Regions from separate parts of the Homo sapiens genome. Here region 1 is linked to region 2. The links come from fine-mapping of genetic effects on gene expression. A gene starts in region 2. The other region holds a variant in brackets. All regions are shown on one strand. Distances are from middle to middle.

Region 1 (5,361 bases), 44 kb before region 2:
GGCTGTCTCTGACACAGGCACCTTTCTGTCCCCCCACCACGGCCCTGGAGCCTCCCTCACTGAAGGCTGGTGCCCCCAACTTGGCCTACACGGTGGAGGGCGTCGGAGTCGCCAAACCCCTCTCAGTGCCTCCCTGGGCCTCCTAGGAACAGAACAGCACGGCTGCCTGAGAGCTGAGAACTGACCCCTTGTATGACCCCAGTCGACCGGCTGCCCCTGGCACCAGAGGGCTGCAGGCACTGCCCAGCCAGCCCAGGTCTGCCACTGAGCCCCACCAGCCACAGCCAGGAGTGGCTGCCACTGGGAAGCCGGTGCCATGCCCATAGCCCCTGGGGCACCTGGCTGAGTACCCAAGCCCCTGGGCTGTCCATGTCTGAGGTGGCCAGCTCTGGGACAGCTGGGAGCCTTTCCTGAGCAGCCGCAGCTGCTGGCTCGGGGAGGAAATGCTCACGGGACACTCTGGCAGAGCGAACAGGTGGAGGCAAGCACTCTGGCCACCCAGGGCCCGGGGCTGCTGGAGTCGGAGTCCCGAGGTTGAGTTCTGGCTCCGTCTGCGAGACACCACCTGGGTCACCTGGGAAACCACTCAAGCTGGCCATGCCTTAGTTTCCTCATGTGCACCAACCCTGCAGAGAGGGCCCCAGGACTAGTGTCCACTTAGGTAAGGGGCCTGGCCTTGTCACGTTAAGAAGCACCTCCTGTCCCGAGCCCATGTCCTCCTGTCCTCCTGTTAGAGCCACACTCCTTAGAAGGGTGGCCTGTGTCTGGAACCACCGCTCCACTCCACCACCGACCTCCAGTTCCCCAAATCCCAATGCCTCTCCTTGGCCCTCTGACCTGGTCTCTCAGCAGCTGGCAAGCCAGCCGGCCAGGGCATTGACTGCAGCCCCCTTCTCAAGTGGTTGTTGGGCCACCATACTCGCCTGGTGTCCCCCAGCCTACTGGCCACTCCCTCCCAGGCATCCTTGCTGGTCCCTACTCCGTCCTGGGGCCTCCCTGCTTCTCATCTGCATGCTGCCTGGGCAGTCTCCGCCGGCATGCCGGCCTTCACGCTCAACTCCAGACCCGGGCCTCCTGCTGCCCTGGTGACATCTCCGCTCCAAGGGGTCCTGTGCATCTCCCACCCAGCTCCTGTCCCTCCCCAGCTGTCCCCAGCCAGGAAATGGCAGGCAACTCCTTTTGTTTGGGCTCTGAATCCTGTAGCTGGGTTGGACTCAGCTCTTCTTCTAACAACCCACATCCTAAATCTTGGTTAGTCCTGTTGATTCTATTTTCAAAACACAACCAGAATCCCAGCCCTCTGCCCAGTTCCACCGTCATCTGAGCCACCATCATCTTTTGGACTATGGTCCTGGCCTCCTCCTGATCTTCCTGCTCCTGTCCTCGTCCCTACAGCCTGTTTCCAGCATGGCAGCCACGTGAGCCCTGGGAAGCTGCACGTGCAATCACGTTGCTCCTCTGTTTTCAGAACCCTCCATGGCTCCCCACTGCACTCAGAATAAAGCCCAGGTTTCTGGGAGGAGCCTCTACAACATTGCCTCCTATGGTCTTTCTGACCTCAGACCCTGGCTCCCCCTCCCGCTGGGCGCTCCTTGGCCCCTTTGGGATCCTCCGAGTTAACCAGGTACAGCTGCACACCACGGTTGCTTCTGCCTGGAAGCAATGCTTCTCCCACGGATGTCTGCATGGCTGGCTCCTTCACTCCCTCAGGTCCTGGCACAGCAGCCCCTTCCAGAAGCACCCTCTTGAAATCTGCAGGCCCTGCAGCTGGCGACTCCCTGGTACCGTTCTTCGCTTTCTGTTTCTCTATAGCATTTCACACTTCTAACATACCCCAGAGTTTGCCCCACTCAGATGTGAACTCCACGTGGCCAGAGGTGTTTTTTTTTTTGTTTTTTTTTTTGCCTGTGTTGTTCACACCATCATCTTGGAGCCTAGTAGGGTCTGGCAAGGTAGAAGCTAATTCGTGAATGCAGAGGCAGCTGTCCAGGGTCTGTGGAGGGCAACTGGGCCCATCTCACAGGGTCCCTGAAATTAGGCCCCATGGGCAGCCACACGGCTGTGATGCAACACTGGGACTGGCCAAGGGCAGGAGTCCTGAGTGGCCATGACCCCACCTTGGGATCAGGAAGCCTTGCCTTGAATGGGATAATATGGCCCCGCATCCCCTAGCTCAAGTCCTTACAGCAGAGGGTCTGTTTAAGGACACCCTTGGCGTCCTCAATGAGACAGCACCATCTTTCCCCAACTGCAGCAGGTCCTTCTCAAAGCCCTGACCAGCCTGTCCATCCACCTGTACCCTGCACCAGCCCCTTGAGGCTGGGGCCAAAGCAGCTGAGCTCAGGACCCTTCAGAGTCAGAATGTGACTCCCAGTGCATCCTGGGAAGCCCTCGCCTAGGCCCACCGGCAGTCTTCCATGGGCCAAGTGTGTGCGGCACTCACGTTGTCCTCTGACAGCTTGTCGATGGTCACCTTGGCTTCTAGCAGATGGCTGTTGAGGGCAACAATCTCGTGGCTCAGCGCACGCTTCTCCTCCTCATAGTGCTGGCCCTGGGGGTGGGACAGTGGGAGGAGGAGGCCCGTGGTTGGCTCCTGGTGAGCCAACCCAGTCGCTCGATTGCACCCCCTGGTTTGTCCCTTGTAGCCATGAGTGACAAGACACTTAGAGGGCCAAGGGTGTGGGGTTTATGAGCACAGACAGACCCTGGTTCAATTCCTGGGTCCAACACTGCCAAGCCACACAGCCTTGGGGACGTCACTGCCTCTGAGCCTCAGTTTCTCATGTGCAACACAGAGGTGACAGCGTCCTGCCTCAGGAGCTGGGAGTGGGGACGGAGGACAGATGACTTGTGCCTGGCATAGAGCCCAGCCCACCTCACTGGACAGATTGGGAAACTGAGGCTCAGGAAAGGGCCGGTGTCCAGGCACCCAGGCAGAGCCAGGCCCAGCCCCCAGGCCTGCCACCCCCCGTCTCTGA[T/C]AGCACCACAAAGGTGGGCAGGTTGTTGCTTTCAAAACCAAAATGAGCTGGTCACCAAAGTAGAAAGAAAGGAAACCTCTTCATCCTAGTGAGGGAGTGGCACCAGAAACCCACACCCTGCCCCTCTTCGACATGTCCCAGCAGTGTGTTCACAGAGAAAATGGCGACCCCACTGAGGTCACCTGCAGGTGGTGTGAGGGTCCCCACAGAGGGGTCCCCATGAGAGGCGGAGCTGGGGCTCAAACCTGCCTCTGGCTCACCCAGGGCCTGAATTCGGGCCTCCCTATCCTCCTGGGCCCAGGTCCTTGGACTGGCAGGCTGAGCTGGGGGGCCCGTTCCCAGTGTATGTCCTCCGTCCACAGCCCCTCTTACACACCCCCAGGCTGGAGTGCTCGCACCCGCCACTCAGGCAGCACAGGGCAGCCCTGGACCCAAGTACTTCCTTAGCCTGAGAGCACACACCCTGCTCCACATGTTCCATGGAGAAAGGGGTGGGACCAGCAAGACCTGTGTCCCAGCTCCTGAGTGGCCCAGGGGTGTCAGCTGGGTGGCTCCCCCCGGGAAGGAGGTGTGGGGTGGGGGAGTGGGCGCTGCGTGGCGGCCTCACCATGCGGTACAGCTTGTCCTCCAGCTCCTGGTTGATCCTCTGCAGTGCCATGTAGTTGCTCTGAATCCTGGTGCAGGAGGCAAGGGGGTCACTGCCATGCAAGGCCTGTCCCTCCCACGACCCTTATGGCCGCACAGCCTGCTGAGCAGGGTGGGGCTGAATTTGGACCTCCTGAGCTCACCCCACCAGCTTCACCCTGGTGGAATGTGTGCCCCTCTGCACACAGCAGAGAACATCCCATTAAAGCAAACTTTTGTAGAAGCCTTTCCTAGGCCAGGGCCCAGGACTGTATTTCCCCCTCCACCCCGGGACCCCCTGAAGATGGGAAGGGAAGGCTTGTTATTCACAAGAGACTCTGTCCCATCCACACGCGGAGCCAGTTTACTCACATTTGACCCACAATTCTTACAAACCTGTTATGGGGTTGACAGTTCAAATGCAAATGAGCAGGGAAGAAACTTAACACTAACTATGTGATGGGCCCCAGGGTGAGGCTGGAGACATCACAGTGAACAAGACTCGGTTCTGCCGGGTAGGAGGAGTGGAGCTGAGTGTCAGGTGGGAATCAGGTGCTTGGAGATTCCATTGCTGGTGGGAGGGGGCTTGGGGATGGTGTCCAGCCTCAGACAACCTATGTGTCGTGTTATGGCCCCTGTCTTGCCAATAGGGAAACTGAGGTGAAACTTTAATTACTTAAAGCAGTAACTGGCAGGGCCCAGATTTTAACTGAGGTCTGACTGCACTGCCCAAGCTTGGTTTCCACATGAATGGAGGGTGACATTCAAAACACTCAGGAGCTGGGGCTGTTCGGAGAGGGACAAACCCTCTCCCTATGGCAAGTCCTCCCTAGGGGCAACACCAGCCGATTCTCTACAAATACCTAAAACAAATCAAGCCAACAGCAAAGGTTGCATGCTTCTTGCATTTTCTGTTTAAGAAGATGAGAAAGTGCATATTACATTTCAGAAAAACATCCATTTTAAATGTGCACAAGAAAACTGCTTTTAGAAAAGTTTGGTGTTTGAGGGAGTCCAGCACAACTGGATCGACACTTCATTAGCCCGTACGCGCTCAAGGGAAGGGTCCCTAAACTGGTTCATCTCCGGGCTAGACACAGCTTTTCCCATCAGGACCCAGGGAACCATGGCTGGGCCCCGGGTGGACCAGTCTGGGTCTGGAGATCTGCTGGGTTCAAATCCTGGCTCAGCTGCTCCATAGTGTGACTTTGGAGGAAGAGCTTCCCCTACCAGAACCTCTGGACTCCCCATCTGAGTGGAGTCAACAGCCAGGGTGAGAGGGGAGCACCGCGTGCGGCTTTCCGGGCCTCGGGCCCTGCCCCACCCCGGCCCTCGCCCCGCCCCGGCCCTCGCCCCGCCCCGGCCCTCGCCCCGCCCCGGCCCTCGCCCCGCCCCGGCCCTCGCCCCGCCCCGGCCCTCGCCCCGCCCCGGCCCTCGCCCCGCCCCGGCCCTCGCCCCGCCCCGGCCCTCGCCCCGCCCCTCACCTGCGCAGCTTCTCCGTGACCTTCTCCAGTTCCTCCTGCGCGCGCCGCAGCTCGATCTCCAGGTAGTGGCGCGTGGAGTCGAACTCGGTCTCGAGCTTCTCGAGCTTGTGTGTGGTGTAGGACAGCCGCTTGCGCAGCTCGCCCTTCTGCTCCTGCAGCGCGCTGCAACGACATGGCGGCGGCGGGCCGGGCCGCGGCGCTGAGCGGGGGAAACTAAGGCCCGCAGGCCAGCCGGGGCGTGCCGCACTAACACGCGAGTACCGGCGCGCGCGCGC
Region 2 (5,361 bases):
TCCATCCATCCATCCATTCATCCATCCATCCACTCTTCAGCATCAGGAGTGCCTGCAGGAGTAGGGAAGCTCCTTCAAAGTGTTGCCGTGGAGATGATGCGTGGAAATGCTGATCCAGGGCCCAGTACATAGCAGGCGTTCCATAAATGGCAGCTATGTGGGCCAGACCCTGCGCCCAAGTCTTGGGAGAGTGGATGGAAGATCTTCCAGATTGCTTAGGGCTCATTTCCTCTCTCCAGGCCTGGGCTCTGACAGGTGTCCCCCTACTCCACCCCAGCGCATGGAAAACTCATCCTCCAGGCTGAGGTTCTAGGCAGCCCTCCCCTCCCCACTCAGCTCCCAGGTGCGAACAGCTCCAGGTTTTGACGACAAACGGAACGCGGAGCCTTGGAATCTATAAATATGAGACAAAAGCTGGGGAGGGCCCTTGGCGGCAGCGCAGCCGCCCATCGCCCAGAGCCCGTGTGCTGAGCCCGGGCAGAGCCGCATCTGCCACAGTGCTTGCTTTTCCAAGCTGCCCTGATTATAGTGAGAGTCGGGAAAATTAAGGGTTTGCAGGATGCTGCTGGGGCCCTCTCTGCCGTCTCCCCGCCCTGCGTGTCACAGATGCCAGGCAGAGCCACCCCCAACGGCCAGTTGCCCCTGCTGGCAAGACCAAGGCCAGCCTGGCAGGGCTGCACACCGCAGTTTGTTAGGGGCTTCTGCCCACAGTCCTCGTGGGAGCCTGGCCCTGGGAGTAGTGGGGGTCTCTGCTGCTCTTGGCAGGCAGAGGAACTAGGGTCCAGAGAAGGAAAAGAACCTGTCCATGGCCTCCAGAGAGCCAGAGCACTGGGGCCTCCGACGGAGCCTGGCTGTGGAGACCCCGCCCCACCCATACCCCCAGGGCCTGGACCCCCAGTCTGCACTGGCGGCCGACCTTGGCCATGCGGACTTTGCACGTGCAGTGCTCCCTATCCATCCGGCCCCGCTCCCGGGTGCCCACTCTGCTCCCATTCTGCCGGCTCAGGAGACTCCAGCGCGTCGCCCACGCTGTTCCTGCCCTGAGGAAACCACATTGGGGATGGGGTGGGGCACAGACGAGGAAGGAAACACCTCTAAACCAAGCAGGAAGCGGAAACGCTGGGGCAGAAATTCCCATCCAACGTGCTGGGGCTCAGGGAGGGTGAGCGCGCCGGCTGAGCCGCTCTGGGCGAGGCCCTGGCCTCCCTGAGCCTCAGTTTCCTCGCCTGTAAAGGGGCAGGAGGATAGTACCTGCCGCGAGGTACTGAATGGGATGGTGGTGTCCGAGGTTCGTGCGCGCCCACGCGCTGCAAACGCTCAATGAGGCGGCCCCGGGTCCAGCCTCCTTCCGGCTCCCGGGCCTTTCTCCGGCCTCCCAAGCAGGGGCTGGCCCTGCCCCCAGACGCAGGCGGGTCCAGGCCTGCCCGCACCCTCGCCACCCGCCCGGGACAGCGGCGGGTCCCCAGTCCTCCGGCCGCGCCCTTGGTCACCCGTCCCTCCTTTCCTTCCGCCGCAGGGGCGCGCGTGTCAGGGCGCAAGGACCCCGCGATAGGACCCGGGCGCTCCCGGCGGCGCGCGGAGGCTGGGCATCCCCGCCCCACCCGAGAGTGCCCAGTTCCCAGGAGACCCGGCCCGGCTCCTCCCGGGCCAGTGAAGCCTCCACGGCGGGGGCGCAGCGCGGAGGGGAGCGGGGCGGGGGGCCGGCCACCTCCCGCGCTGAGCAGGGACCGCCCCAGGCGTGGGTGGCGCCCGCCCCGCCTCCGCGCCCGCGCCCGCGCCCTGCCCTCCCGGCTCGCAGGTACTCACCGCCCGGCGCAGCCGGCCCGGCCGGCGACCGCCAGTCCACATGGCCCCAGGGCAGCCGCGCCGCTCACCGCCGCCGCCGCTACCGCCGCCCCCTCCCCTCCGAGGCCGAGCGCGCCGGGAGCCGGCGCGGCCGGGGCTCCCCCACCCCGCCCGGCTTCCCGCAGGGAGCGCCCGCCCCCCGCCCCCAGCCCGGCTCCCCGCCAGCCCCGGCCCCGCGCAGCCGCGGCTGAGCCCGCGCGTCCTCCCGGCAGCGCCCGGCCGGGGCGCAAGTGGTGGGCGCAGGGCCGGGCAGGGGCGCGGGGGTGCGGCGTGCGCGGGGGCCAGGCGAGGAATGGCAGAGGGGCAGGGAATGAATGAACCCGCGCCAGCTTGAATGGCTGAGCGCGTGAATGAATGAGTGCGGTAGAGCATGCGGGGCTGGGGGGGCGGGGGGAATGAATAAATGAGAGAACTAATGCACGGGCGCGAAGGTGAGTGACAGAGTGAATGGGCCCTTGAAACCCAGAGGCTGTCAGTAATGACCTGCCCAACCTTTTCATCGGTCCATCCATTCAATCCCTCAACATTTATTAGACACCTAGTGTGTACCAACCAGCCCTGCTGTAGGCCCCAGGGGGTACAGTAGCGAGTGAAACCAAGCTCCTGCCCTCGCAGAGTCACATTTTACAGATGAGGAAACCCTGGCTCCCAAGGGTGCCTCCTGGCCAAGCTGCCCCTTACCCTGCCCTTGCTCTGCCCGAGCCCCCAGTCGGTGGCTTCCAGGGCTTGCCTTCTCCCCAAGGAGCTCTCAGGAAGGGAAGGTGGCTTCAGGAGGACCAGTGTTGCCCCCTGCCTATCCCTCCAGTCTGAAGCATCCCACCGACCTGCCCGGTAGAGCCCAGGCTGGCCAGTCCTACCCTGGTAAAGGTGCAGCGTGAACCCTCCTCTCTCCTCCCAGAGCGGGCAAGGGGCAGCCCTGAGGGTGCCAGCTACATGAGGGTCTTCCATCCCAGCCAGCCCAGCAGCAGCCAGCGTGGGAACCCGGGGAGGAGCACTGGCAGCCAGGGAGGGTCCTGCGTGGTGGAAACAGAGCTGGCAAAGCCCGTGTGCTTCGCTCATATCCTCCCTCGGGACCTATGGGCTCATGGTTCACACATGCTTATATCATTTCCAAGTACATGGCAGATTAGAAGATGCTGCGAATGAGTACCTTGTATATTTTTGTTTTTTAATTGTGGAAAACATGGAAAACATAAAATTTACCATTTTAACCACTTTTAAAGTGTACAGTTTGGGGACACTGAGTTCCCACTGTTGAGCTGCCATCACCACCATCCTTATATGCTGTATGTTGTATGCTTTGCAGTTTCTACGCTCTCTCATTTAATCTGGGGAGTAGGTTGCTACATTCAGGCAGTGTCAGTGCTGAGAAAAGGCACTGATAGCAAGGCAAGAGGGGAAACCCAGAAAAAAAGGAGACAAGCAAAAGAACCAGCAGCTGACTGGAGCCACTTCGTGTCAAGCAAAGTCCTGTCTCTGCTCCCTCTCAGGTCCCAGGGACATGATTGGGTAACCAATGGACAGAGGGAGGCGCCTCCAAGTGCACCCCACCACAGTCAAGACAAAATGAGAGGCGGCAGCTCAGGGCGGGGCTCTCCCAGTTTGGGCGAAGCGTGGACAGACTTCGCCCAAACCGTCGCTGGTGTGCACCACGGGACCAGCCTCTTTGCTCAAGGGGGCCTTAGTCTCCCCAGCAGGAGTAGGGACAGGCTCCCTGACCTCCACTCTGGCCTCTCAGGTTCAGACACCATTCAGGCAGCACACAGCAGTGGAGGCATCCTGTGAGAGGTAGTGAGGCCCAGCCTGCCAGCTCCAGTGTCCCTTCCCTCCCCAGTCCCTAAGGGGACAAACACCAATGGGGGATGTGGAACCTGGGGTACAGGCAGGGCTCTGCCCACATTGCCTCCTCCTGGGCTGCGGCCCTTCCCCAGAGGCTGGTCCTGCTCAGATGGTGCCAGAATGTTCACCGCCCGCCCTGGCACTGCTGCTGCCAACGCCACAGATGGCTGGGGAGGCGGGGGAGGGGCGGGTGGGGTGGGGGCGGCTCCTGCTTCAGCTCCAGCAGCTTGCAGGCTTCAGCTCAGGCCTGCCTGGGAAGGCCCCAGGAGAGCCCCTCCCCCATGCTGCACGCACCTCCCGTCCCCACCCTCCCTGCCCTCTCTTCTATCCTTCCCACTCCAGCCCCCTTAAGCTAGGAAGGCGGAGAGAAAGCAGGCATTGGTTGTGGGTCTGGGAGCATCCCTGCAATGCCCCTGTAGGGGAAGTGGTACTAGCCCCTTTTTGCAGATGGGGAAACTACAGTCAGTGCAGCAGAGCCTGGGGCATCAGGCAGGCTTCCTGGAGGAGGCAAGGTTTCAGCCGGGTTGGGAAGAAGGGATGAAAGTGGCAGGACTTCGAGGTGATGCCCTGGGGCCATGGAGGACCCTCTCCTCAGGCCCCTGCCCTCATTCAGACCTCTACGGACCACTCTGTTTGACATCACCATCCCCATGGCTCAATCTCGTTGCCCTATTTTGTTTTTTGCGTGTCTCTTACTGCGTTCCAGAGCTATCTGATCTGTCTGTTGATGTGGACATCAATCTCCCCGCTGGGATGCGTGGTCCTCTACTGTGGTCAGGGAGCAGGGCAGGAAGTGGCACCACACTGGGGCTCATGGTTAAATGTGCCAAAGAATGCATGGATGGATGGAGGTGGGGGAGATAGGAATAGCCTGGTGTGATGCCAGGCTTCTGGCCCTGGTGGCTGAGTATAAAAGAAAGGACAGCACGTCAGGGAAGTCATTGACAGTGAGGCACCCGCAGACAGCCACATACAGGGGCTCCAGCATCAGCTAGCCATGCTGACCAGTTCCCTGCCTCATCTTCCAATCCCCACCCACAAGAACAGATTGAGCAAGGGTTCTGACTATGAGCCCTAGAGAATGGGAAGGTGAGAGGTATCTTCCCACTCTCCCACAAACAACAGGTGCTCCAACTGAAACTCTGGAGTCCCCTGCAGAATCGGGCTACAGCTGCCCTCCACAGGTGGTGAGAAGGCCCTGAATTGGCCCAAGTGTGTATCTAACAATGACCCCAACTGCAATATTAACCCAAATTCCAACCTATATCAAATGCTAAACCTAACTCTAATGGGACCCAAAACCAAAGCAAACTTTAACCCTACCCCAATGCTAGCCTGAACAGTAACATGAACCCTAAACCCGACTCTAACCCCAACACTGTCCTGCCAGAAAGCAATAACCTCAACCCACACCACACGCTAAAGTTAACCCAGACGCCAACCCAAAACCAAATCCCAAAAGGAACATTAAACCAAACCCCAACCCAGCCCTAACCCTAACACTAAACACTGCCAAAAACACCCCAAGCACTAGCCCAAATCCTAACCATAATCCCAACCCCAAACCTAAGCCTAATCCCAACCTGACCCTAACCCTAATCCCAAACCAAATCCTAACCCTAATCCTAACCCCAGCCCTAACCCTAACCGTACCCCGCTGCCCTGTTCCTTCACCTG

Evidence for each region. PIP is the estimated chance that this variant, and not a neighbour inherited with it, causes the effect.
Region 1: its variant is fine-mapped to the expression of BEGAIN in whole blood (INTERVAL, PIP above 0.99).

What each region holds. Positions count from the first base shown.
Region 1 is chr14:100,541,415-100,546,775 of GRCh38, forward strand. It overlaps BEGAIN (brain enriched guanylate kinase associated), which reads right to left. Exons shown (of 7, transcript NM_001385089.1): 3 at 5,087-5,248; 4 at 3,586-3,652; 5 at 2,444-2,551. LOC124903382 (a long non-coding RNA gene) reads left to right here. Exons shown (of 2, transcript XR_007064334.1): 2 at 1-1,529. Among named protein-coding and RNA genes, the nearest start is that of BEGAIN, 43 kb to the right of the region's middle. The variant T/C (reference allele first, on the strand shown) is at 2,979.
Region 2 is chr14:100,585,443-100,590,803 of GRCh38, forward strand. It overlaps BEGAIN (brain enriched guanylate kinase associated), which reads right to left and starts at 1,975. Exons shown (of 7, transcript NM_001385089.1): 1 at 1,807-1,975. The coding sequence starts at 1,848.